Regions from separate parts of the Homo sapiens genome. Here region 1 is linked to region 2. Evidence: fine-mapped expression QTL. A gene starts in region 2. The other region holds a variant in brackets. All regions are shown on one strand. Distances are between the middles of the regions.

Evidence for each region. PIP is the estimated chance that this variant, and not a neighbour inherited with it, causes the effect.
Region 1: its variant is fine-mapped to the expression of SLC22A10 in esophagus muscle (GTEx, PIP above 0.99).

What each region holds. Positions count from the first base shown.
Region 1 is chr11:63,306,564-63,319,374 of GRCh38, reverse strand. It overlaps SLC22A10 (solute carrier family 22 member 10 (gene/pseudogene)), which reads right to left. Exons shown (of 10, transcript NM_001039752.4): 10 at 7,592-8,368. The coding sequence ends at 8,341. Among named protein-coding and RNA genes, the nearest start is that of SLC22A10, 23 kb to the right of the region's middle. The variant A/G (reference allele first, on the strand shown) is at 7,077.
Region 2 is chr11:63,283,989-63,296,799 of GRCh38, reverse strand. SLC22A10 (solute carrier family 22 member 10 (gene/pseudogene)) reads right to left here and starts at 6,897. Exons shown (of 10, transcript NM_001039752.4): 1 at 6,233-6,897; 2 at 5,157-5,260. The coding sequence starts at 6,634.

The sequences.
Region 1 (12,811 bases), 23 kb before region 2:
TTTCTTTCTTTCTTTCTTTCTTTCTTTCTTTCTTTCTTTCTTTCTTTTTCTTTCCTTCTTTCTTTCTTTTCTTTTTCTTTTCGAGACAGATCTTGCTCTGTTGCCCAGGCTGGAGTGCAATGGTGCCTTCACACCTCACTGCGGCCTCGACATCCCTGGTTCAAGTGATCCTCCTTTTTCACTTCACCCTCCGGAGTAGCTGGGACTACAGGGGCACACCATCATGCCTGGTTATTTTTTTTAATTTTATTATTATTATACTTTAAGTTTTAGGGTACATGTGCACAATGTGCAGGTTTGTTACATATGTATACATGTGCCATGTTGGTGTGCTGCACCCATTAACTCATTTACATTAGGTATATCCCCTAATGCTATCCTTCCCCCTCCCCACAGCCCACAACAGTCTCTGGTGTGTGACATTCCCCTTCCTGTGTCCATGTGTTCTCATTGTTCAATTCCTATCTATGAGTGAGAACATGCGGTGTTTGGTTTTTTGTCCTTGTGATAGTTTACTGAGAATGATGATTTCCAATTTCATCCATGTCCCTACAAAGGACATGAACTCATCATTTTTTATGGCTGCATAGTATTCCATGGTGTATATGTGCCATATTTTCTTAATCCAGTCGATCATTGTTGGACATTTAGGTTGGTTCCAAGTCTTTGCTACTGTGAATAGTGCCACAATAAACATACGTGTGCATGTGTCTTTATAGCAGCATGTTTTATAATCCTTTGGGTATATACCCAGTAATAGGATGGCTGGGTCAAATGGTATTTCTAGTTCTAGATCCCTGAGGAATCGCCACACTGACTTCCAAAATGGTTGAACTAGTTTACAGTCCCACCAACAGTGTAAAAGTGTTCCTATTTCTCCACATCCTCTGCAGCACCTGTTGTTTCCAGACTTTTTAATGATCGCCTTTCTAACTGGTGTGAGATGGTATCTCATTGTGGTTTTGATTTGCATTTCTCTGATGGCCAGTGATGATGAGCATTTTTTCATGTGTTTTTTGGCTGCATAAATGTCTTCTTTTGAGAAGTGTCTGTTCATATCCTTCACCCACTTTTTGATGGGGTTGTTTGTTTTTTTCTTGTAAATTTGTTTGAGTTCATTGTAGATTCTGGATATTAGCCCTTTGTCAGATGAGGAGGTTGCAAGCATTTTCTCCCATTCTGTAGGTTGCCTGTTCACTCTAATGGTAGTTTCTTTTGCTGTGCGGAAGCTCTTTAGTTTAATTAGATCCCATTTGTCAATTTTGGCTTTTGTTGCCATTGCTTTTGCTCTTTTAGACATGAAGTCCTTACCCATGCCTATGTCCTGAATGGTATTGCCTAGGTTTTCTTCTAGGGTTTTTATGGTTTTAGGTCTAACATTTAAGTCTTCAATCCATCTTGAATTAATTTTTGTATAAGGTGTAAGGAAGGGATCCAGTTTCAGCTTTCTACATACAGCTAGCCAGTTTTCCCAGCACCATTTATTAAATAGGGAATCCTTTCCCCATTGCTTGTTTTTCTCAGGTATGTCAAAGATCAGATAGTTGTAGATACGTGGCATTATTCTGAGGGCTCTGTTCTGTTCCACCGGTCTATATCTCTGTTTTGATACCAGTACTATGCTGTTTGGTGACTGTAGCCTTGCAGTAGAGTTTGAAGTCAGGTAGCATGATACCTCCAGCTTTGTTCTTTTGGCTTAGGATTGACTTGGCAATGCAGGCTCTTTTTTGGTTCCATATGAACTTGAAAGTAGTTTTTTCCAATTGTGTGAAGAAAGTCATTGGTAGCTTGATGGGGATGGCATTGAATCCATAAATTACCTTGGGCAGTATGGCCATTTTCACGATATTGATTCTTCGTACCCATGAGCATGGAATATTCTTCCATTTGTTTGTATCCTCTTATTTCATTGAGCAGTGGTTTGTAGTTCTCCTTGAAGAGGTCCCTCACATCCCTTGTAAGTTGGATTCCTAGTATTTTATTCTCTTTGAAGCAATTGTGAATGGGAGTTCACTCATGATTTGGCTCTGTTTGTCTGTTATTGGTGTATAAGAATGCTTGTGATTTTTGTACATGATTTTGTATCCTGAAACTTTGCTGAAGCTGCTTATCAGCTTCAGAAGATTTTGGGCTGAGACAATGGGGTTTTCTAGATATACAATCATGCTGTCTGCAAACAGGGACAATTTGACTTCCTCTTTTCCTAATTGAATACCCTTTATTTCCTTCTCCTGTCTGATTGACCTGGCCAGAACTTCCAACACTATGTTGAATAGGAGTGGTGAGAGAGGGCATCCCTGTCTTGTGCCAGTTTTCAAAGGGAATGCTTCCAGTTTTTGCCCATTCAGTATGATATTGGCTGTGGGTTTGTCATAGATAGCTCTTATTATTTTGAGATACCTCCCATCAATACCTAATTTATTCAGAGTTTTTAGCATGAAGCATTGTTGAATTTTGTCAAAGGCCTTTTCTGCATCTATTGAGATAATCATGTGGTTTTTGTCATTGGTTCTGCTTATATGCTGGCTTATGTTTATTGATTTGCATACATGGAACCAGTCTTGCATCCCAGGGATGAGGCCCACTTGATCATGGTGGATAAGCTTTTTGATGTGCTGCTGGATTCGGTTTGCCAGTATTTTATTGAGGATTTTTGCATCGATGTTCATCAAGGATATTGGTCTAAAATTCTCTTTTTTGGTTGTGTCTCCACCACGCTTTGGTATCAGGATGATGGCTGGCCTCATAAAATTAGTTAGGGAGGATTCCCTCTTTTTCTATTGATGGGAATAGTTTCAGAAGGAATGGTACCAGTTCTACCTCTGGTAGAATTCGGCTGTGAATCCATCTGGTCCTGGACTCTTTTTGGTTGGTAAGCTATTGATTATTGCCACAATTTCAGAGCCTGTCATTGGTCTATTCAGAGATTCAACTTCTTCCTGGTTTAGTCTTGGGAGGCTCTATGTGTCGAGGAATTTATCCATTTCTTCTAGATTTTCTAGTTTATTTGCATAGAGGTGTTTGTAGTATTCTCTGATGGTACTTTGTATTTCTGTGGGATTGGTGGTGATATCCCCTTTATCATTTTTTATTGCATCTATTTGATTCTTCTCTCTTTTTTTCTTTATTAGTCTTGCTAGCGGTCTATCAATTTTGTTGATCCTTTCAAAAAACCAGCTCCTAGATTCATTAATTTTTTGAAGGGTTTTTTGTGTCTCTATTTCCTTCAGTTCTTCTTTGATTTTAGTTTTTTCTTGCCTTCTGCTAGCTTTTGAATGTGTTTGCTCTTGCTTTTCTAGTTATTTTAATTGTGATGTTAGGTTGTCTATTTTGGATCTTTCCTGCTTTCTCTTGTGGGCATTTAGTGCTATAAATTTCCCTCTACACACTGCTTTGAATGTGTCCCACAGATTCTGGTATGTTGTGTCTTTGTTCTCGTTGCTTTCAAAGAACATCTTTATTTCTGCCTTCATTTCATTATGTACCCAGTAGTCATTCAGGAGCAGGTTGTTCAGTTTCCATGTAGTTGAGCGGTTTTGAGTGAGTTTCTTAATCCTGAGTTCTAGTTTGATTGCACTGTGGTCTGAGAGACAATTTGTTATAATTTCTGTCCTTTTACATTTGCTGAGGATAGCTTTACTTCCAAGTATGTGGTCAATTTTGGAATAGGTGTGGTGTGGTGCTCAAAAGAATGTATATTCTGTTGATTTGGGGTGGAGAGTTCTGTAGATGTCTATTAGGTCTGCTTGGTGCAGAGCTGAGTTCAATTCCTGGATATCCTTGTTAACTTTCTGTCTCATTGATCTCTCTAATGTTGACAGTGGGGCGTTAAAGTCTCCCATTATTATTGTGTGGGAGTCTAAGTCTCTTTCTAGGTCACTCATGACTTGCTTTATGAATCTTGGTGCTCCTGTGTTGGGTGCATATATATTTAGTATAGTTAGTTAGCTCTTCTTGTTGAATTGATCCCTTTACCATTATGTAATGGCCTTCTTTGTCTCTTCTGATGTTTGTTGGTTTAAAGTCTGTTTCATCAGAGACTAGGATTGCAACCCCTGCCTTTTTTTGTTTTCCATTTGCTTGGTAGATCTTCCTCCGTCCTTTTATTTTGAGCCTATGTGTGTCTCTGCCCATGAGATGGGTTTCCTGAATATAGCACACTGATGGTTCTTGACTCTTTATCCAATTTGCCAGTCTGTGTCTTTTAATTGGAGCATTTAGTCCATTTACATTTAAAGTTAATATTGTTATGTGTGAATTTGTTCCTGTCATTATGATGTTAGCTGGTTATTTTGCTTGTTAGTTGTTGCAGTTTCTTCCTAGCCTGGATGGTCTTTATAATTTGGCATGATTTTGCAGTGGTTGGTATCGGTTGTTCCTTTCCATGTTTAGTGCTTCCTTCAGGAGCTCTTTTAGGGCAGGCCTGGTGGTGACAAAATCTCTCAGCATTTGCTTGTCTGTAAAGTATTTTATTTCTCCTTCACTTATGAAGCTTAGTTTGGCTGGATATGAAATACTGGGTTGAAAATTCTTGAAGAATGTTGAATATTGGCCCCCACTCTCTTCTGGCTTGTAGTGTTTTTGGCGACAGATCCACTGTTAGTCTGATGGGCTTCCCTTTGTGGGTAACCCGACCTTTCTCTCTGGCTGCCCTTAACATTTTTTCCTTCATTTCAACTTTGGTGAATCTGACAATTATGTGTCTTGGAGTTGCTGTTCTCGAGGGGTATCTTTGTGGCATTCTCTGTATTTCCTGAATCTGAATGTTGGCCTGCCTTGCTAGATTGGGGAAGTTCTCCTGGATAATATCCTGCAGAGTGTTTTCCAACTTGGTTCCATTCTCCCCGTCACTTTCAGGCACACCAATCAGACGTAGATTTGGTCTTTTCACATAGTCCCATGTTTCTTGGAGGCTTTGTTCATTTCTTTTTATTCTTTTTTCTCTAAACTTCCCTTCTCACTTCATTTCATTCATTTCATCTTCCATCACTGATACCCTTTCTTCCAGTTGATTGCATCAGCTTCTGAGGCTTCTGCATTCTTCACATAGTTCTTGAGCCTTGGCTTTCAGCTCCATCAGCTCCTTTAAGCACTTCTCTGTATTGGTTATTCTAGTTATACATTCATCTAAATTTTTTTCAAAGTTTTTAACTTCTTTGTCTTTGGTTTGAATTTCCTCCTGTAGCTCAGAGTAGTTTGTTCATCTGAAGCCACCTTCTCTGAACTCATCAAAGTCATACTCCATCCAGCTTTGTTCCGTTGCTGGTGAGGAACTGCGTTCCTTTGGAGGAGGAGAGGTGCTCTGCTTTCTAGAGTTTCCAGTTTTTCTGCTCTGTTTTTTCCCCATCTTTTTGGTCTTATCTACTTCTGGTCTTTGATGATGGTGATGTACAGATGGGTTTTTGGTGTGGATGTCCTTTCTGTTTGTTAATTTTCCTTCTAACAGACAGGACCCTCAGCTGCAGGTCTGTTGGAGTTTGCTAGAGGTCCACTCCAGATGCTGTTTGCCTGGGTATCAGCAGCGGTGGCTGCAGAACAGTGGATTTTCATCAACTGTGAATGCTGCTGTCTGATCGTTACTCTGGAAGTTTTGTCTCAGAGGAGTACCCAGCCATGTGAGGTGTCAGTCTGCCCCTACTGGGGGGTGCCTCCCAGTTAGGCTGCTCGGGGGTCAGGGTTCAGGGACCCACTTGAGGAGGCAGTCTGCCGGTTCTCAGATCTCCAGCTGCGTGCTGGGAGAACCACTGCTCTCTTCAAAACTGTCAGACAGGGACATTTCAGTCTGCAGAGGTTATTGCTGTCTTTTTGTTTGTCTGTGCCCTGTCCCCAGAGGTGGAGCCTACAAAGGCAGGCAGGCCTCCTTGAGCCGTGGTGGGCTCCACCCAGTTCGAGCTTCCTGTCTGCTTTGTTTACCTAAGCAAGCCTGGGCAATGGTGGGCACCCCATCCCCAGCCTCGCTGCTGCCTTGCAGTTTGATCTCAGACTGCTGTGCTAGCAATCAGTGAGATTCCGTGGGCGTGGGACCCTCTGAGCCATGTGCGGGATATAATCTCCTGGTGAGCTGTTTTTTAAGCCCATCGGAAAAGCGCAGTATTAGGGTGGGAGTGACCCAATTTTCCAGGCGCTGTCTGTCACCCATTTCTTTGACTAGGAAAGGGAACTCCCTGACCCCTTGTGCTTCCCAAGTGAGGCAGTGCCTCGCCCTGCTTCGGCTCACTCATGGTTTGCTGCACCCACTGTCCTGCGCCCACTGTCTGGCACTCCCTAGTGAGATGAACCCGGGACCTCAGATGGAAATGCAGAAATCACCCATCATCTGCGTCGCTCACGCTGGGAGCTGTAGACCGGAGCTGTTCGTATTCGGCCATCTTGGCGCTCTCTCTTTAATCTCTTAATCCTGTGATCACGTAAGCTGAGGAGGATGTATGTTGCCTCAGGACCCTGTGATGGTTGCATTAACTGCACAAGTTGTAGAGTACGTGTGTTTGAACTATATGAAATCTGGGCACCTTGAAAAAAGAACAGGATAACAGCAATGTTCAGGGAACAAGAGAGATAACCTTAAATTTTGACTGCTGTTGAGCCAGGCAGAACAGAGCCATATTTCTCTTCTTTTGAAAGCAAATGGGAGAAATATCGCTGAATTCTTTTTCTCAGCAAGGAACATCCCTGAGAAAGAGAACGCGCACCTGAGGGTGGGCCTCTAAAATGGCCCCCTTGGGTGTGACCATCTTCTATGGTTGAGACTGTAGGGATGAAATAAGCCCCAGTCTTCCATAGCGCTCCCAGGCTTATTAGGATAATGAAATTCCCGCCTAGTAAATTTTGGTCAGATCAGTTGCTCTCAAACCCTGTCTCCTGAGAAGATATTATCAATGACAATGGTGCCTGAAACTTCATTAGCAATTTTAATTTCACCCGTCTTGTGGTCCTGTGATCTCGCCCTGCCTCCATTTGCCTTGTGATATTCTATTACCTTGTGAAGTACATGATCTCTGTGACCCACACCCTATTCGAACACTCCCTCCTGTTTTGAAAATCCCTAATAAAACCTTGCTGGTTTTATGGCTCAGGGG[A/G]CATCATGGAACCTACCGACATGTGACGTCTCCCCCAGATGCCCAGCTTTGAAATTTCTCTCTTTTGTACTCCGTCCCTTTATTTCTCAAACTGGTCGATGCTTTGGGAAAGTAGAAAAGAACCTATGTGAAATATCGGGGGTGAATTTTGCCCGACATCTGGCTGAATTTCCCCCGACACCTCACCACCAGTTGTTTGTTTGTTTGAGCACCAATAAATAGCATGGGCTCCCAGAGCTTGGGGCCTTCGCAGCCTCCACACTTGTGATGGCCCCCGGTCCCACTTTCTCTCTCAAATTGTCTTTTTCTCATTCCTTTGACTCCGCCAGACTTCATCGCCCCGACGACCTGGCGTTGGGTCTGATCACCCCAACATTCAGTGTATCTTCACCCACTCTGAGAATCATTAGCACTTAAAATCTTTGCTGTTTAAAATGAAAGTTTATATTTTGGTTATATAGGTTTGCCTGAAATTACTTTACTACTATATGTACTTTCATTTATTAGTCACATCATTTGAAATATAATTTTTTAATTTATAGTTATTTTATTAAATGTACATACAGTTTGAAAATTGCTGAACCTGGCCTTTGCCCTTCAATTTGAACAATATCTTTATAATATTGTAAACTATACCAGCTATTTGTTTAAAATATACAGAGAGAAAAATTACAAAGAAAAAGTAATTAAAATTCCACCATGGAAAAGTAACTAACATCATTTAGTGACTGTATTTACAAAGAGATAGTCAATGTTATTTAGTATCTAATCTTTCCGTTTTCCAATGGCTTATTATGTCAAAAGTATCATGTATTAAATGCATTTATATAGGTCTCTATTTCTGGATTTATTTTGATTTCTGGTTGCATGTACAGTATTGTTTTGACTTTTGCAACTTTATGAATTCATCACATGGTGCTTCATACACCAGCCAGCCACATCCTAATTCTGTGATTTTCTTTTGTTTCTGAATCATCTTATCTACTAGTAATTTATTGATAAATTTGTAACTTTTTAAAGGACTTCCCAAAAATATCAGATTGCTCAAGAGATTACATGTCCCCACAAGTTAATTTTGAAATAAAATGCAAATTAATGCCATAATTATAATTGAGATTCATGTATCTAATATATGTTCTTGCTGGTTGTAGGGAAAAAAACCCTTCTGGTGTGTTCTTTTCCTGTATTTTTTTTTCTGAATTTCCCCACCAATCAGCTCATGAAGGCTTCTTAAAATTTGGTCACTTTTGTGTAGCAATCATTTTTATGCCTTTTCCTTGAGATTTTTTTTTCTGGAAAAACAAAACAAAACAGAAACAATAAATTGAAAAAGAACAAACAAAAACAAACGTTCAGAAAAAATCAAAATTACTTTGTATGTCCTCTATGCACCATTGCAAGCTGAACCTCTGACCATCAGCATTTATTTATTTATTTTTTAACTTTATTTTAGGTTTAGGGGTATATGTGCAGGATTGTTATATAGCAAACAGTGTGTCACAGGGGTTTTGTGTACATATTATTTAGTTACCCAGGTAATAAGCATAGTACTCCATAGGTTTTTTTTAATCCTTTCCCTCCTCCCAATCACCACCCTCAAGTAGGCCCCAGCATCTGTAGTTCTTTGTGTCCATGTGTTTTTGTAGTTTAGCTCCCACTTATAAGTGAGAACATATGGTATTTGGTTTTCTGTTCCTGCATTAGTTTGCCTAGAATAATGTTTTCCAGCTCCACCCATGTTGCTGCAAAGGACATGTTTTTTTTTATGGCTGCATGGTATTCCATGGTATATATGTACCACATTTTCTTTATCCAGTCTACTGTTGACGGACACTTAGGTTTGTTCCATGTCTTTGCTATTGTGAATAGTGCTGCAATAGACAAACATGTGCATGTGTCTTTATAGTAGAATGAATTATATTCCTTTGAGTATATACCCAAAAATGGGATTACACCATCAGCTATTTATAAGTCAGTATTTCTAGCGAATCACACTCACTCTGTAAAAGGTCCTGCTGCCTGTGCAGATCCAAAGGGAGTTTTGAAAATTGCTACTCTCACTTGGTCTTTTTAGACCTGTGGTAAATGGCATCTTTGAAAGTTAAGGGGTGAATTAAAAAATTTAAGAAATCTCACCATTAATTATGGGTTACATTGTGTCCCCCCACCAAAGAAAATTTATATGTTGAAGTCTTAACTCTAAATACCTCAGAATGTGACATTATTCAGAAACAGTGTTGTTGCACATGTTACTAGTTAAGGCAAGGTCATATTGGAGTAGAGTGGGACCCCTCACTCAATATGACTGGTGCCCTTATAAAAAAGGAGGAATTTGAGGCCAGACGTGGTGGCTCATGCCTATCATCCCAGCACTTTGGGAGGCCAAGACAGGTGGATCACCTGAGGTCAGGAGTTCAAGACCAGGCTGATTAACATGATGAAACCCTGTCTATACAAAAATACAAAAACTAGCCTGACATGATGGTGGGTGCCTGTAATCCCAGCTACTTGGGAGGCTGAGATGGGAGAATAGTTTGAATCCAGGAGGCAGAGGTTGCACTCCAGCCTGGGTGACAGAGCGAGACTCTATCTAAAAAAAAAAAAATAGTTGGGGGAAATTTGAATGTAGAGACACACACGTGGGGAAAAATGCCATGTGAAGATTACAGTTGGGAAACTATACCCAAGGATCTACCAGAAGTGAGAAGAGGTGTCTGGAATAGATTCTTCCCTACAGACTTCAGTGAGGTCAAGTCCTTTTCAATAAATTGATCTCAGACTTCTAGCTTCCAGAACTGTGAGACAATAAATTTCTTTTCTTAAGTGCCTAAGTTTGTGATATCTTGTTATGAAAGACATAAGAAGTGAATATGCTATTTTTATTATTTTAACATTATTTCTTGTCACCAATCAAATTAAACCCAAACAAGAATATCCCAAGAAAAATTATAATAAACTCTCAAAGAGCAGACAAATAGAGCGTCCTGAAAGCACCAAGAAAAAAAGAAGCAAATAATATATAAGGGAGATCCAATATGCCTGGAAGCAGACTTGTAGCTGAAAATGTGCAGGCCAGAAAGGATTGAGATGATATATGCAGAATGCTGAAGGAAAAAAAAAAAGACTGCTGTCCAAGAATACTCTACCCAGAAAAGCTATATTTCAGAAATGAGTTGAGATAAAAAGACTTTCCCAGGCAAAAAAAAAAAATGCTGAGGGAATTCATCACTATCTCCTACAAGAAATGCTAAATGGAGTTTTTTGAACTTAAAGAAAAGGGCATTAATGTGATTGTTACTCTAGTACTGTAATTGTGGCATGTAAACCACTTACTTATATCTTTAGTATGAAAACTAAAAAAAACCTATCAAAAATAATAACTACAATAATTTGTTAAGAGGTGGGCAAAATAAAAGTGTAAATCATGACAAAAATCAAAACGTGGAAGGAGAGTTGAATTGTACCAGATTATTCTGTTTCTTCTCTTTTCTTTGTGATCAGTGTCAAGTTGCTATCATTTAAAATAACTTGTTATAATTATATAATTTTGTATAAGCCTTGTGGTAACTGCAAAGCAAAAACCTATAATAGATATGCTAAAATTAAAACACAAAGAATCAAAATATACTACTAGAGAAAACCACAAATAAAAACTGTAAAAGTGAAAGCAGGGGAAAAAAATGTACAAAACAAGTAGAAAATCGGTAACAAAATGGCAGTGTTAAGCCCTTACCTATTAATAATTACCTTGAATGTAAATGGACTAAATTCTGCAATTAAAGACGTAGAATGATTGAATGGATTTTTTTTAACTTAATTATATGCTGCCTATAAGAGACTCATTTCAACTATAAGGACACACGTAGACTTGAATTGAACAAAAGGAAAAAGTATTTCATGCAAATGAAAACTAAAAAAGACTAGGAGTAGCTATGCTTATATCAGATAAAATAAACATTATGGTCTTGTTTCTTTTTGCAGTTTTTTTTTTTTTTTGCCAGAAACTGCAAAAAGAGATAAGACCATATATAATACTTAAGGGGTCAATACAGCAATAGGATAAAACAATTATAAATATATATGCCCCAACATCAGAGCACCTAAATATATGGAGCAAATATTAATAGACCTAAATGGAGTGATAGTCTGCATAAAATAATAATAGGAGACTTTCAGCAATGGACAGATCATCCAGATAGAAAATCAACAAAGAAATATTAAAATTAAATCACATCCTAGATCCAACATTTACAGAACATTTCATCCAACAGCTACACAAGACAAATTCTTCTCAGAAGCACACAGAACATTTTTCAGGTTAAATCCTATGTTAGGCCACAAAACAAAACTCAACAATTTTTTTTAAAATCAAAATAATTTCAAATATCTTTTCTGATCACAATGCAATAGAACTAGAAATTAGTAACAGAAAGAAAGAACTTTGGAAAACTTACAAATACATGGAAATTAAACAACATGCTCCTAAACAGTCATTGGGTGAATGAAGAAATAAAAACAAAATTTAAAAATTTCCTGAGACAAAAGAAAATGGAAACACAACATACCAAAACCTATGGGATACAGCAAAAGCCATTCTAAGAGGGAAGTTTATAGCATTAAATATCTACATCAAAAAAATTTAAAGATCTCAAATAAACAACCTGATATTAAACCTAAAGGAACTAGAAAAACAAAAACAAACTAAAACCAAAATTAGTAGAAGGAAATAATAAATATCAGAGCAAAAATAAATAAAAAAGACAAAAATACAAAAGATTAGGAAAATTTGTTTGTTTTTTGAAAAGACAAACAACATCAACAAGCCTTAGCCAGACTAAGAAAAAAGAGAGATGACTCAAATAAAATTAGAGATGGCAGAGGAGACATCACCACTGATATCACAAAAAGGATCCTTAGAGACTGTTATGAACAAATACAAACCAAAAAATTAAAAAACAGAAAAAAAAAACAAACAGAAAAATCCCTAGACACATACAAACCTACTAAGACTGAATCATGGAGAAGTAGAAAACCTCAACAGGCCAATAAAAAGATAAGGAAATTGAATCAATAATAAAAAGTCTCCCATTAAAGAAAAGCCCAGGACTTGATGCCTTCACAGGTGAATTCTACTAAACATTTAAAGAAGGAATTCTAAAATAGCAAAAATATACAAATGGAATTATATCAAACTAAAGAGGCTTTATGCCGCAAAGAAAACAATCAATGAAGTGAAGAGACAGCCTGCAGAGTGAAATAAAATATTCACAAACTACGCGTCTAACAAGGGACTAATAACTAAAACACAAGAGGAGCTCAAGAGTAAAAAACAAAGTGTGATTTGAAAATGGGCAAAAGATCTGAATAGACATTTCATAAAAGAAGACACATGAATGCCCAATAGTTATATGAAAAAATACTCAACATCACCAATCATTGATAAAAAACAAATTAAAGCCACAATGAGATGTCATCTCATTCCAATTAGAATGGCTATTACCAAAAAGTCATAAAATAGCAAATGATAGTAAAGATGTAGAGAAAGAGGAATTTATACATGATTGGTAGAAATGCAAATTAGTACAGCCATTATGGAAAACAGTATGAAGGTTCCTCAACAAATGAAAAGTTAACCACCATAATATCCAGCAATCCCACTATTGAGTATATATCCAAAGGAAATGAAATTGGTATGTCAAAGAAATATTTGCATTCCCATGTTTTACAGCACTATT
Region 2 (12,811 bases):
CATTGTTGATCTGGGTTTATAGGCCTCTGTGTTCCAGCTAGAACAAAATATAAGAGAGCCACAACCCAGAAAGAGAAAAGTACAGAAACTTCTCAGAGGAAAAAAATACGTAGAAAGTAGAGTGAAGGGAGAGAGAAAGTGAAGGCTGAAAAGGGAAAGGAAATTTGGCATTTTACAGGGTGTTTGTAAAGACAGGTCTTAAAGGGGACAACTTGGACTAAATGGGGTGTGCTTATTGTATATGCCCAGTAATATTAACAAACAAAGTTTTGGGTTGGGAACTGTTCTACATTTGAAATGGAACTCTAGATATATTTAAATAGTATCTAGAGGAGTGGTATCAGCAAGATAGCTAAGTAGAGACTCCTGACACTCATTCCCCCCAACCCACACACCAATGAGAAAAAAACCAAGGCAACAAATAAACAGGTAAGATTTCACTAGAGTGTGGAAGGGAGAGCACTGCAATGCAGCGAGGGGGTGGAGACACACCTGTGGAGATTGGAAGTCCAGGAGGGCAGCATGGAGGCACCCAGCCTCTGTAGCAGAAGAACCCACCAGTCTCCATTGCCACCACAAACAGCAACAGTTCTTACCATAGGAGAATTTCATAGTCCGCACAAGTCCTGAGTCCAAAAGAGAGCTGCCGAAAATTTACCCAACTGCATTGCCCAGATTAGGGGCACAAAGTATTATTCCCCAGGTCACGCCTATCCCTTGTGAGTCAAGCTGTTGCAGCATGGCACCATCTTGAGACCAGAGCCACCTCTGGAGTGCATCCTGTCCTGGGGGCCAGTAGCCACTGCACCTCTCCAGCACTGGAACTCTATCTTCATTCCATGAAGCCCACATCAGTGACTGAACACCACAACCCCAGCAGTGCAGAGTCTGGGCTTAGGATCAGTGGTGGCTCTGGTCCTACAAAGCAGAGAAACAAATCCCACCACCCTCATTTTCATCTGGAAAAACAATCTGGCAATTCTGCCCAGGGTGAACCCACTGTTGAGCCAGCTAAACTGCTGCATACCCTTCCCCAAGGGGGAAAGACCCTGGAACTCTATGCAACTAACAGCCTTCCAGCCAGTAAAGCCTGCTCCTATGCTCCTCTTTCTAGAACCTGAGGATAGCTCCATGATGCTCCACCCCCTGCAGACAAGCCCTTGGTATGCCCAATGGCCCTGCACCTGCAATCAGGATGTCAGAACAACTGAAAGCTTCGCTGGCACTCAGACCTCCAGGCTGGCTGAGTAGCTGTGTGCCCATGTCCTGGGTCTGAGAAAACAGCCCTGTGGGGGACTACTGGCAGGCTTGCCACCAGCCTGGCAGAGCAACCTCATGTATGTGTTCCTGGCCAGAATAATAGCTCCATAAGTCTAACTTGGCTTAACTTGGCCAAATCACCACGTGCATGCATGCACCCCACATCTGAGAAACAGCCTGGCAAGCCGACCCCCAGCAAAGCCTTACCACAACCATAACCAACTCTTGCAGCCTATGCCACTAAGACACTAGCACATGTCACTAGCCTAGGTTAAAGCTGAAGAAACTACACAGAAAGAATACTACTGTGCCCACCTAGAACCAAAGCCTGACACACCCCATAAAACTGACGACACAAGACCCATTCATACAAATAAGCCTTTCCTTATGAAATCTCTTCATAAAATTGTAAGAGGCAACCTTTCCACTCAACCAAAGAAATCAATGTAGAGACAAATCAAACATTACAAAGGAAAGAAATTTGACACATTTAAAGGACCACAATAATTTTCCTGTAACCGGCCCCAATTATAGACAAATATACAAAATGCCAGAAAATGAATTCAAAATAACAATATTAAAGAAACTCAGGGAGATACAAGAAACTATAGACAATTCAATATAATTACAAAAACAATACATTATTTAAATGAAAAATTTAACAAAGACATAGATATAAAAAAGAACCAAACAGAAATCTTACAGTTGAATATTCAATGAATGAAGTAAAAAAAAATGCAACTGACAGCTTCAACCATAGACTGGAACAAGCAGAAATAATTTCTGAGCTTAAAGACAGTTTGCTAAAAATAATAGAGGCAGATGAAAGAAAAAAGAATTACAAAGAATGAAGAAAACCTACCGAATGTATAAACACCAGTAAGTGAATAAATATTTGCATTATGAGAATTCCAGAAGAAGGGAAGTGAAACGGTTAGAAAATATATTTTATGATACTTTATGATATGATAGCTGAAAATTTCCCAAGTCTTGGGATAAGCATGGATATCTTGGTACAAGAAGCTCAAAGAATGCCAAATAGAGTCAACTCAAACAGGTCCCCTAGCAGGCACATTATAGTCAAATTTTCAAAAAAGCAAAGATAAAGAAAAAGTACTAAAAGCAGCAAGAAGAAAGCATTGAGTCACACATAAAGGAATTCCTATTAGACTAACAGCAAATTTCTGAGTGGAAACCTTGGAGGGCAGGAGAAAATTGGATAATATATCCAAAGTCCTGAAAGAAAAAATTGTCAGAAAAGAATATTATACCCAGAAAAATTCTTCTATGCTTCAGAAATGAAAGAACTATAAAATCTTTCACAGACAAGTGAAAACTAAAGGAATTACCACCACAGAAACAGCCAAAAACATTCTCCAGGGAGTCTTACATCTTGAAGTAGAGAGATGGCAGTTACCATAATGAAAGCAAGTAAAACTATAAAGTACTAGGAGAACCAATAAACAAATGATAAAGACAGAAAGAGGAATCAAATCTAATCACCTCAGAAAAACACCCAACAAGCCTATCAACCAAAATAATAATAATAATAATAATAATAATAATAATAATAAATAAATAAATAAGTAATAATTTTAAAAAGCACCCAGGACCAAACAGAATCACAGCTGAATTCTACTAGAAGTACAAAGAAGATCTGGCAACATCCCTGCTGAAACTATTCCAAAAAATTAGGGAGGAGGGTCTCCTCCCTAACTCATTCTATTAGGCCAGCTTCATCCTGATACCAAAACCTGGCAGAGATTACAAAAACAACAACAACAACAAAAAAAAAAACACAAAAACTTCAGGCCAATATCTTTGGTGAATATCAATGCAAAAATCCTCAACAAAATACTGGCAAACCAAATCCAGCAGCATATCAGAAAAATTATCCACCATGATCAAGTATGCTTTATCCCTGGGATGCAAGGTTGGTTCAATATTTGTAAATAAATATATGTGATTCATCACATAAACTCAACTAAAGACAAAGACCACACAATTATCTAAATAAATGAAGAAAAGGCTTTTGATAAAATTCAACAACCTTTCATGTTAAAAACTCTCAATAAAGTAGGTATTGAAGGAACATGCCTCAAAAAAGTAAGATCCATGTATGACAAACCCACAACCAACATCTTATTGAATAAGCAAAAGCTCAAAGCATTCGTCTTGAAAACTGGCACAAGACACCACTCCAATTCAGCACAGTATTGGAAGTCCTAACTAGGGCAATCAAGCAGGAGTAAGAAATAAAGAGCATCCAAATAGGAAGAGAGGAAGTCAAACTATCCCTGTTTGCAGATGATATGATACTGTATCTATAAAACCCCATAGTCTCAGCCCAAAAGCTTTTTAAGCTGATAAACAACTTCAGCAAGTCTCAGGATAGAATATCAACGTGCAAAAATCGCTAACATTCTTATACACCAATAACAGTCAAGCTGAGAGCCAAATAAGGAAAGCAATGCCATTCGCAATTGCCACAAAAGAATAAAATACCTAGGAATACAGCTAACTAGGGAGGTGAAAGATCTCTACAAGGAGAATTACAAAACACTACTCAAAAAAAAAAAAAATCAAAGATGACACACACAAAAATGGAAAAGCATTCCATGCTTATAGGTAGAAAGAGTCCATGTTATAAAAATGGCTATACTGCCCTGATATGATTTGGCTGTGTCCCCACCCAAATCTCATCTTGAATTGTAGTTCCCATAATCCCCATGTGTTATGAGAGGGACCTGGTGAGAGGTAATTGAATCATGAAGGCATTATCTCCATGCTGGTTTCACTATAGTGAGTGAGTTCTCATGAGATCTGATAGTTTTATAAGGGGCTTTTACCCCCTTCACCCTCCACTTCTCTTTCCTGCTACCATGTGAAGAAGAATGTGTTTACTTCCCCTTCCACCATGATTGTAAGTTTCCTGGGGTCTCCCCAGTCATGCTGAACTGTGAGTCAATTAATCCTCTTTTCTTTATAAATTACCTAGCCTCAGGCAGTTCTTCACAGCAGGGTGAGAGTGGACTAATACATGCCCAAAGCAATTTATAGATTTAATACTATTCCTATTAAACTACCATTGAGATTCTTCACAGAGCTAAAAACTATTATTTTAAAATTCATATTGTTATGGTTTGGCTCTGTGTCCCCAACCAAATCTCACGTTGAATTGTAATAATCCCCATGTGTCATGGGAGGGAGCCAGTGGGAGGTAATTGAATCATGGGGGCTGGTTTTTCCCATGATGCTCTCCTGGTAGTGAGTAAGTCTCATGAGATCTGATGGTTTTATAAAGGGGAGTTCCCTGCACATGCTTTCTTGCCTGCCACCATTCAAGACATGAATTTGCTCCTCATTCACCTTCCACCAAAATTGTGAGGCCTCCCAAGCCATGTGGAACTGTGAGTTGATTAAACCTCTTTCTTTTATAAATTACCGAGTCCCAGGTATGTCTTTATTAGCAGCATGAGAATAGACTAATACTCCTACTAATTACAGTGGGGTAATTATGATAATGACAACCAGGCTGGGGAGCCCACAAGCATTTAGCTCACAGAGTCCAGGAGGGACTTAACACAATATCCCTAGCCAAGGTCTACACACCATTTCATATATTTGTATCTTCAAGGAGGATGAATTCTCTATTTTGATATTTTTGTATTCAGTATCCTATACAGAGATGCTGTTCAGAGATCTCTGTGGCAACAAAATGGCACTCACTAAACTCACTGTAATTCATTTCTGTATCTAACTCTCTGGGGAACAGAGCAGCACCAACAGTGTAAATTGCATATTGTAACTCAATAACACTTCTTTGTGAAAAAAATTAATTGTAAGCTGATAAAAACACTGCAGAGTAATGATAACCCTGATCTGGAGACACTCACCTGTCTGAGACATGGCCACCTATGATGCCTCCCACCAGCATTCCAGTCAGAAGTAGGAATTGAACCACTGATTTCAGTGACTGATAATCACATACCAGGTCCCACTGGAAGAGAAGGAAGCCAATACAGCATAGCTTCACAGCAGCTTTTGACTTCTCATTGTTCACTTGCTGCAATAGCTTTCAGTGGACACACTCTCTAGCCTCTTTTTACTACATTTTCTTACCTATACCATTCAAGTCTTGGCTTAAGCATGGATTTCTCTGGAAATCCTCACACAAAACCTTCCAGGTTATGTTAATGTCTGTCTTTATATTCATTCAGCACTGCATACCTCAGTGGTTCTCAATTTTTGTTACACATTAAACACATTAAGGAGACTTTTTAAACCATTGATGCTAGTATGAAATCCACTCTGATTTGCTTCTGTAACATGTAGCCAAAGCAGGCAGATTTTAAAAATAACACAGATGTTTCCAATTTGCAACTTAGGCTGAGAACAAGTGACCAGGAAGAATATTTTTCTAATCATTAGTCTTCTCTTCAAGCTAGTTTTGTGATAGCTGTATTTATATCTAGTTGGTTGAGTTCATTGCCTCAAATTCAATGTAAGTGCCTGACAATTAAAAAATAAGTAGCCAGGTGCGGTGGCTCACATCTGCAATCCCAGGACTTTCGGGTGGATCACCTGAGGTCAGGAGTTTGAGATCTGTCTGGCCAACATGGTGAAACCTTGTCTCCACTAAAAATACAAAGAAAAAAAATTAGCTGAGTGTCATGATGCATGTCTGTAATCCCAGCTACTTCAGAGGCTGAGGCAGGAGAATTGTTTGAACCTCAGAGGTGGAGGTTGCAGTGAGCTGAGATCTCACTATTGCACTCCAGCCTGGGCAACAAGAGTCAAGCTCCATCTCAAAAAAAAAAAAAAAAAAAAAAAAAAGAGCAATCACTATTTGCCAAAAGAGTGTCTGAGTGCTGACTACACTATCTACACAATAACTAGAGGCTTAAAGCATGTTTATTTTCTTCTAAACACCTGGATTGTGTATCCAGAACAGGTTAACAGGACCCTTTACCTTAGTCACAATGGTCGAAGGGAAGTAGCTTTGATCATATACCCAGCCATCCACACAGGGTTCTGTGTCTGCCTCACTTGTGCTGTGGATAGTCCCATTCAGGTGAAGAAGCTGCCACTGGGGATGGACAAAGCGACGACACTTCTCTGGCCTCAGATTTGAGTCTAGTGGGATAGAGATTCTCAAGAGGGCATCTTCACTGAGGATTCCAGTTTCATTACCAGATCCAGTATTATTGTCCAGCATGTGGACCCAGCAACGATGACCAGGAATGGCTGCAGCAAAGTTCTCTAGCAGTATATGAGGGATTAATAACATGAGAGAGGGAAGAATAAAAACCAGATGAAGCATCTGAAATCTCCCAAGGCCTCCAACTTGACTCAAGAGCTCCTCAAAGGCCATTGATTGTGAACACGTGACCCCCAAGAGGAGGCACAATGGCTTTACGGAGATAAGTTCAAAGGGAGAAAATATTTCCTTTTATTAATTCAAATTAAGCTTGTATTGATCCTCGCATCAATTTCTCATCCATGGGCCCGGACTCACCAGTGCAATACAGCCGTAGTGGAAAGAGCTTCCTCAGTTCTTTTGCTATCAGGAGGTAGATGTTATTTTGTAGTCATAGAGATCATTATTTCATAGAGATACTTCTAGCTGTTGACAATAAAATCCGTTTAAAGGTTTACTCTCTCCAAATATGTTTGTCCTCAAGTGACTCATGAAATTTACATTGGACTTTGGCATGTACATGTTCTCTAAATAAGCTAAAAGAAATCGGTTAAACAGTGTTGTTATTTCTAGGAAGTGAAATTTGAGAGACACAAAAGTAAACTGCTTTATAATTTTTCCATGAAAAGAGCAGAAAGTCAGGGTTTTTCTCCTTTAGTACTGAATTTAGATTAAAATGATGAATAAATGCAAATCCCAATTACCATGTTTTGCTTTTTAAAGCAAATTGGAATGTGATGCCATTACTATCTTTTGTTAACTGATATTATGCTTCAGGTTAAATCACATGAGGAACTCACATAACTTTAAATTATATGAAATATAAATAGAAGAGAAAGGCAGTGTTCAGCTCATATAGGAGTTTATTTCCTTGGGCTTATTTATTCATTTATATATAGCACATTGGAAGATCTTTTCCATGTTAGTTTTGGGAATCCAGATAAATTGTTTATTTTATTGTTATAAACTATGCCTCTATCTCTAGTGATGCTCCTCATTTTGAATTATATATTTTTTAACGTTAACATGGCTATGCCAGGTTTCTTATAGTTTGCATCAGATAACTTTCCCATGTTTTAGATTTTTAATGAAATGTTTTTTGAGATTATTATAGATTTACATGCAGTTGCAAGAAATAACACAAGGAGTAATCATATACTCATCACCCTGTTTCCTCTAATGGTAATATTTTACAAAACTGTAGTATAATATTGTATCAACATCAAGATGCTAGTATGATACAATGTAGTATAATACCAGGATCTTGATACTGATACAATCTACTGATTTTATTAATATTTCCCTTGTTGGTTTATCTGTATCCGTGTATGCATATAGTACTATACAATTTTATGTGTGTAATTTAGTGTGCCCATCATCACAATCAAGATAGTGAACAGTTACATCTCCACAGATATCCCTCCTTCTAGGAGAATAATATGGTATATATCCTTCTCAGGTTGGCTTTTGAAAAATCAGAAACTCTACAGATATTCATCTAAGTTGCTGTATATATGAATACTTTGTTCCTTTTTATTGCTGAATATTATTCCATAGAATGTATATACAATTGTTTGTTTTTTTAAAATCAATGTTATTGTGCATATTTAAGATAAGCAACATGATGTTATAAGATACATATGTATATATATAGATAAAGATATATAGAGATATATAAAATGCTAACTATAGTGGAACCAATTAACCTATCAATCATCTCACAAATGGGAAAAGTTACCCATTCCCCCCTTTGGCAAAAGCACATATAATCTATTCATTTATCAAAAACACAAGATACTGTTATTAATTACAGTTCTCCTGTTGTACATGAGATACTTCAACTTGTTCATCCTACATATAGGCTACTTTGTATCCTTTGACTTACATCTCCCCACTTCTTCCCACCCCTCACACCCCAGCCCTTGTAAACACCATTCCATTCCCTATCTCTATGTACTTGACCATACTTGACCTTATTATTTTTTTAGTTTTTTTTTATTATTATACTTTAAGTCTGGGATACATGTGCAGAACGTGCAGTTTTGTTACATAGCTATACATGTGCCATGGTGATTTGCTACACCCATCAACCCATCATCTACATTAGGTATTTCTCCTAATGCTATCCCTCCCCTAGCCTCCCACCCCCAGACAAGCCCCAGTGTGTGATATTCCCCTCCCTGCATCCATGTGTTCTCACTGTTCAACTCCCACTTATGAGTGAGAATGTGAAGTGTTTGGTTTTCTGTTCTTGTGTCAGTTTGCTGAGAAGGATGGTTTCCAGCTTCATCCATGTCCCTACAAAGACATGAACTCATCTTTTTTATGGCTGCATAGTATTCCATGGTGTATATGTGCCACATTTTCTTTATCCAGTCTATCATTGATGGGCATTTGGGTTAGTTCCAAGTCTTTGCTATTGTGAACAGTGCTGCAATAAACATATGTGTGCATGTGTCTTTATGGTAGAATAATTTATAATCCTTTGGGTATATACCCAGTAACAGGATTGCTGGGTCAAATGGTATTTCTAGTTCTAGATCCTTGAGGAGTCACCACACTGTCTTCCACAATGGTTGAACTAATTTACACTCCCACCAACACCTAAAAGCGTTCCTATTTCTCCACATCCTCTTCAGCATCTGATGTTTCCTGACTTTTTAATGATCTCCATTCTAACAGGCATGAGATGGTATCTCATTGTCTTTGTGATTTGCATTTCTCTAATGACCAGTGATGATGAGCTTTTTTTCATACATTTGTTGGCTACATAAATGTCTTCTTTTGGGAAGTGTCTGTTCATATCCTTTGCCCACTTTTTGATGGGGGTTTTTTTTTTCTTGTAAATTTTTAAAGTTCTTTGTAGATTCTGGATATTAGCCCTTTGTCAGATGGATAGATTGCAAAAATTTTCTCCCATTCCGTAGGTTGCCTGTTCACTCTGATGATTGTTTCCTTTGCTATGCAGAAGCTCTTTAGTTTAATTAGATCCCATTTGTCAATTTTCGCTTTTGTTGCCATGGCTTTTGGTGTTTTAGTTATGAAGTCTTTGCCCATGCCTATGTCCAGAATGGTATTGCTTAGGTTTTCTTCTAGGGTTTTTATGGTTTTAGGTTTTATGTTAAAGTCTTTAATTCATCTTGAGTTAATTTTTGTATAAAGTGTAAGGAAGGGGTCCAGTTTCAGTTTTCTGCATATGGCTAGCCAGTTTTCCCAACACCATTTATTACATAGGGAATCCTTTCCCCATTGCTTGTTTTTGTCAGATTTGTCAAAGGTCAGATAGTTGTAGATGTGTGGCATTATTTCTGAGGGCTCTGTTCTATTTCATTGGTCTATATATCTGTTTTGGTACCAGTACCATGCTGTTTTGGTTACTGTAGCCTTGTAGTATAGTTTGAAGTCAGGTAGTGTGATGCCTCCAGCTTTGTTCTTTTGGCTTAGGATTGTCTTGGCTATGCGGGCTGTTTTTTGGCTCCATATGAAATTTAAAGTATTTTTTTTTCAGTTCTGTGAAGAAAGCCAATGGTAGCTTGACGGAGATAGTATTGAATCTATAAATTACTTTGGGCAGTATGGCCATTTTCACAATATTGTTTCTTCATATCCATGAGCATGGAATGCTTTTCCATTTGTTTGTATACTCTCTTATTTCCTTGAGCAGTGGCTTTCTGTTCTCCTTGAAGAGGTCCTTCACATCCCTTGTAAGTTGGATTCCTAGGTATTTTATTCTGTTTGTAGCAATTGTGAATGGGAGTTCACTCATGATTTGGCTGTCTGTTATTGGTGTATAGGAATGCTTGTGATTTTTGCACATTGATTTTGTATCCTGAGACTTGGTGAAGTTGCTTATCAGCTTAAGGAGATTTTGGGTTGAGACTGGGTTTCCTAAATATACAATCATGTCATCTGCAAACAGAGACAATTTGACTTCCTCTTTTCCTCATTTAATACCCTTTCTTTCTTTCTTTGGCCTGATTTCCCTGGCCAGAACTTCCAATACTATGTTGAATAGGAGTGGTGAGAGAGGGCATCCTTGTCTTATGCCAGTTTTCAAAGGAACTGTTTTCAGCTTTTGCCCATTCAGTATGATATTGGCTGTGGGTTTGTCATAAGTAGCTTTTATTATTTTGAGATACGTTCAACCAATGCCAAGTTTATTTAGAGTTTTTAGCATGAAGGGGTGTTGAATTTTGTCGAAGGCCTTTTCTGCACCTCTTGAGATAATCACGTGGTTTTTGTCATTGGTTCTGTTTATGTGATGGATTAGATTTATTGATTTGTGTATATTGAACCAGCCTTGCATCCCAGGGATGAAGCTGACTTCGTAGTGGTGGATAAGCTTTTTGATGTGCTGCTGGATTCTGTTTGCCATTATTTTATTGAGGATTTTCACATCAATATTCATCAGAGATATTGGCCTGAAATTTTCTTTTTTTGTTGTTGTTGTGTCTCTTCCCGGATTGGTATCAGGATGATGCTAGCCTCATAAAATCAGTTAGGGAGGACTCCCTCTTTTTCTATATTTTGGAACAGTTTCAGTAGGAATGGTACCAGCTCCTTTTTGTACCTCTGGCAGAATTTGGCTGTGAATCCATCTGGTCCTGGACTTTTTTTGGTAGGTAGACTATTAATTACTGCCTCAATTTCAGAACTTGTTATTGGTCTATTCAGGGATTCGACTTCTTCCTGGTTTAGTCTTGGGATGGTGTATGTATCCAGGAATTTATCCATTTCTTCTGGATTTTCTAATTTATTTGCGTAGAGGTGTTTATAGTATTCTCTGATGGTAGTTTGTATTTCTGTGGGATTAGTGGTGATATCGCCTTTATCATTTTTTATTGCATCTATTTGATTCTTCTCTCTTTTCTTTATTTGTCTGGTTAGTGGTCTATCTATTTTGCTGATCTTTTCAAAAAACCAGCTCCTGGATTCATTGATTTTTTGAAGGGTTTTTCATGTCTCTATCTCCTTCAATTCTCCCTGATTTTAGTTATCTCTTGTCTTCTGGTAGCTTTTGAGTTTGTTTGCTCTTGCTTCTCTAGTTCTTTTAATTGTGATGTTAAGGTGTTGATTTTAGATCTTTCTCACTTTCTCTTGTGGGCATTTAGTGCAATAAATTTCCCTCTATATACTGATTTAAAATGTGTCCCAGAGATTCTGGTACATTTTGTCTTTGTTCTCATTGGTTTCAAAGAACATCTTTATTTCTGCCTTCTTTTCATTATTCACTCAGTAGTCATTCAGGAGGAGATTGTTCAGTTTCCATGTAGTTCTGCGGTTTTGAGTGAGTTTCTTAATCCTGAGTTCTAATTTGATTGCACTGTGGTCTGAGAGACTGTTTGTTAAGATTTCCATTCTTTTACATTTGCTGAGGAGTGTTTTACTTCCAATTGTGTGGTCAATTTTAGAATAAATGCAATGTGGTGCTGAGAAGAGTGTATCTTCTGTTGATTTGGGGTGGAGAGGTCTGTAGATGTCAATTAGGTCTACTTGGTCTAGAGCTGAGTTGAAGTCCTTGCTATCCTTGTTAATTTTGTCTCATTGATCTGTCTAATATTGACAGTGGGGTGTTAAATTCTCCCGCTATTATTGTGTGGGAGTCTAATTGACTTAGCTATTCTATGGCCTGTTTCTTCCCACATACATTTTAGAATTAAGATGTTTATATCTAAAAAATAACTTCCTGGAATTTTCATAAGAATTACATGAAACCTATAAAATCAATTTTTTACTACATCCTATTACATTTAACCTACCTATGTCCTTATATTTAAATCTACCACTTGTAGACAGCATTTAGATGGGACACCTATTCAATGCTGCCTTAAAACTGTGACTTTTAATTGGTATATTTAGTCCCTTTAATTGCAGTATTTAGTCCATTAAATTACATTTAATGTAATTCTCCATACTTTTGGAAATAAACCTGCTGCTCAGGTCTTATAAAGTTCTGTTAAAAGGCTTATAAAGTTAAAAATAAGCCTACTTAGTAAATAAAAATCACCAAATATTACCAAATATTTGTGTCCATAAGATTTCATAAAAGAATATGTAAATAGCAGCTGCATTTACAAAACATAAACTGAAAAAAAGCCATATGTCCAATAACAACATCCATCCAGCAATATGGATAAGTTGTTAACATCCATATCCAAATGTAATGTTACTCAGCAATAAAAAGAAATAGAATGCTGATAAAAACAAAAGCATGCATTAATCTCACATATACTATATTGAAAAAAGAAACTGTATGCAAAAATACAAAGTTTATAATTTCCATTTACATGATGTTCTAGAACAAGTATGATTAAGTCCTAGTGAAAAAAATATAGAATTGGCTTCTAGAAG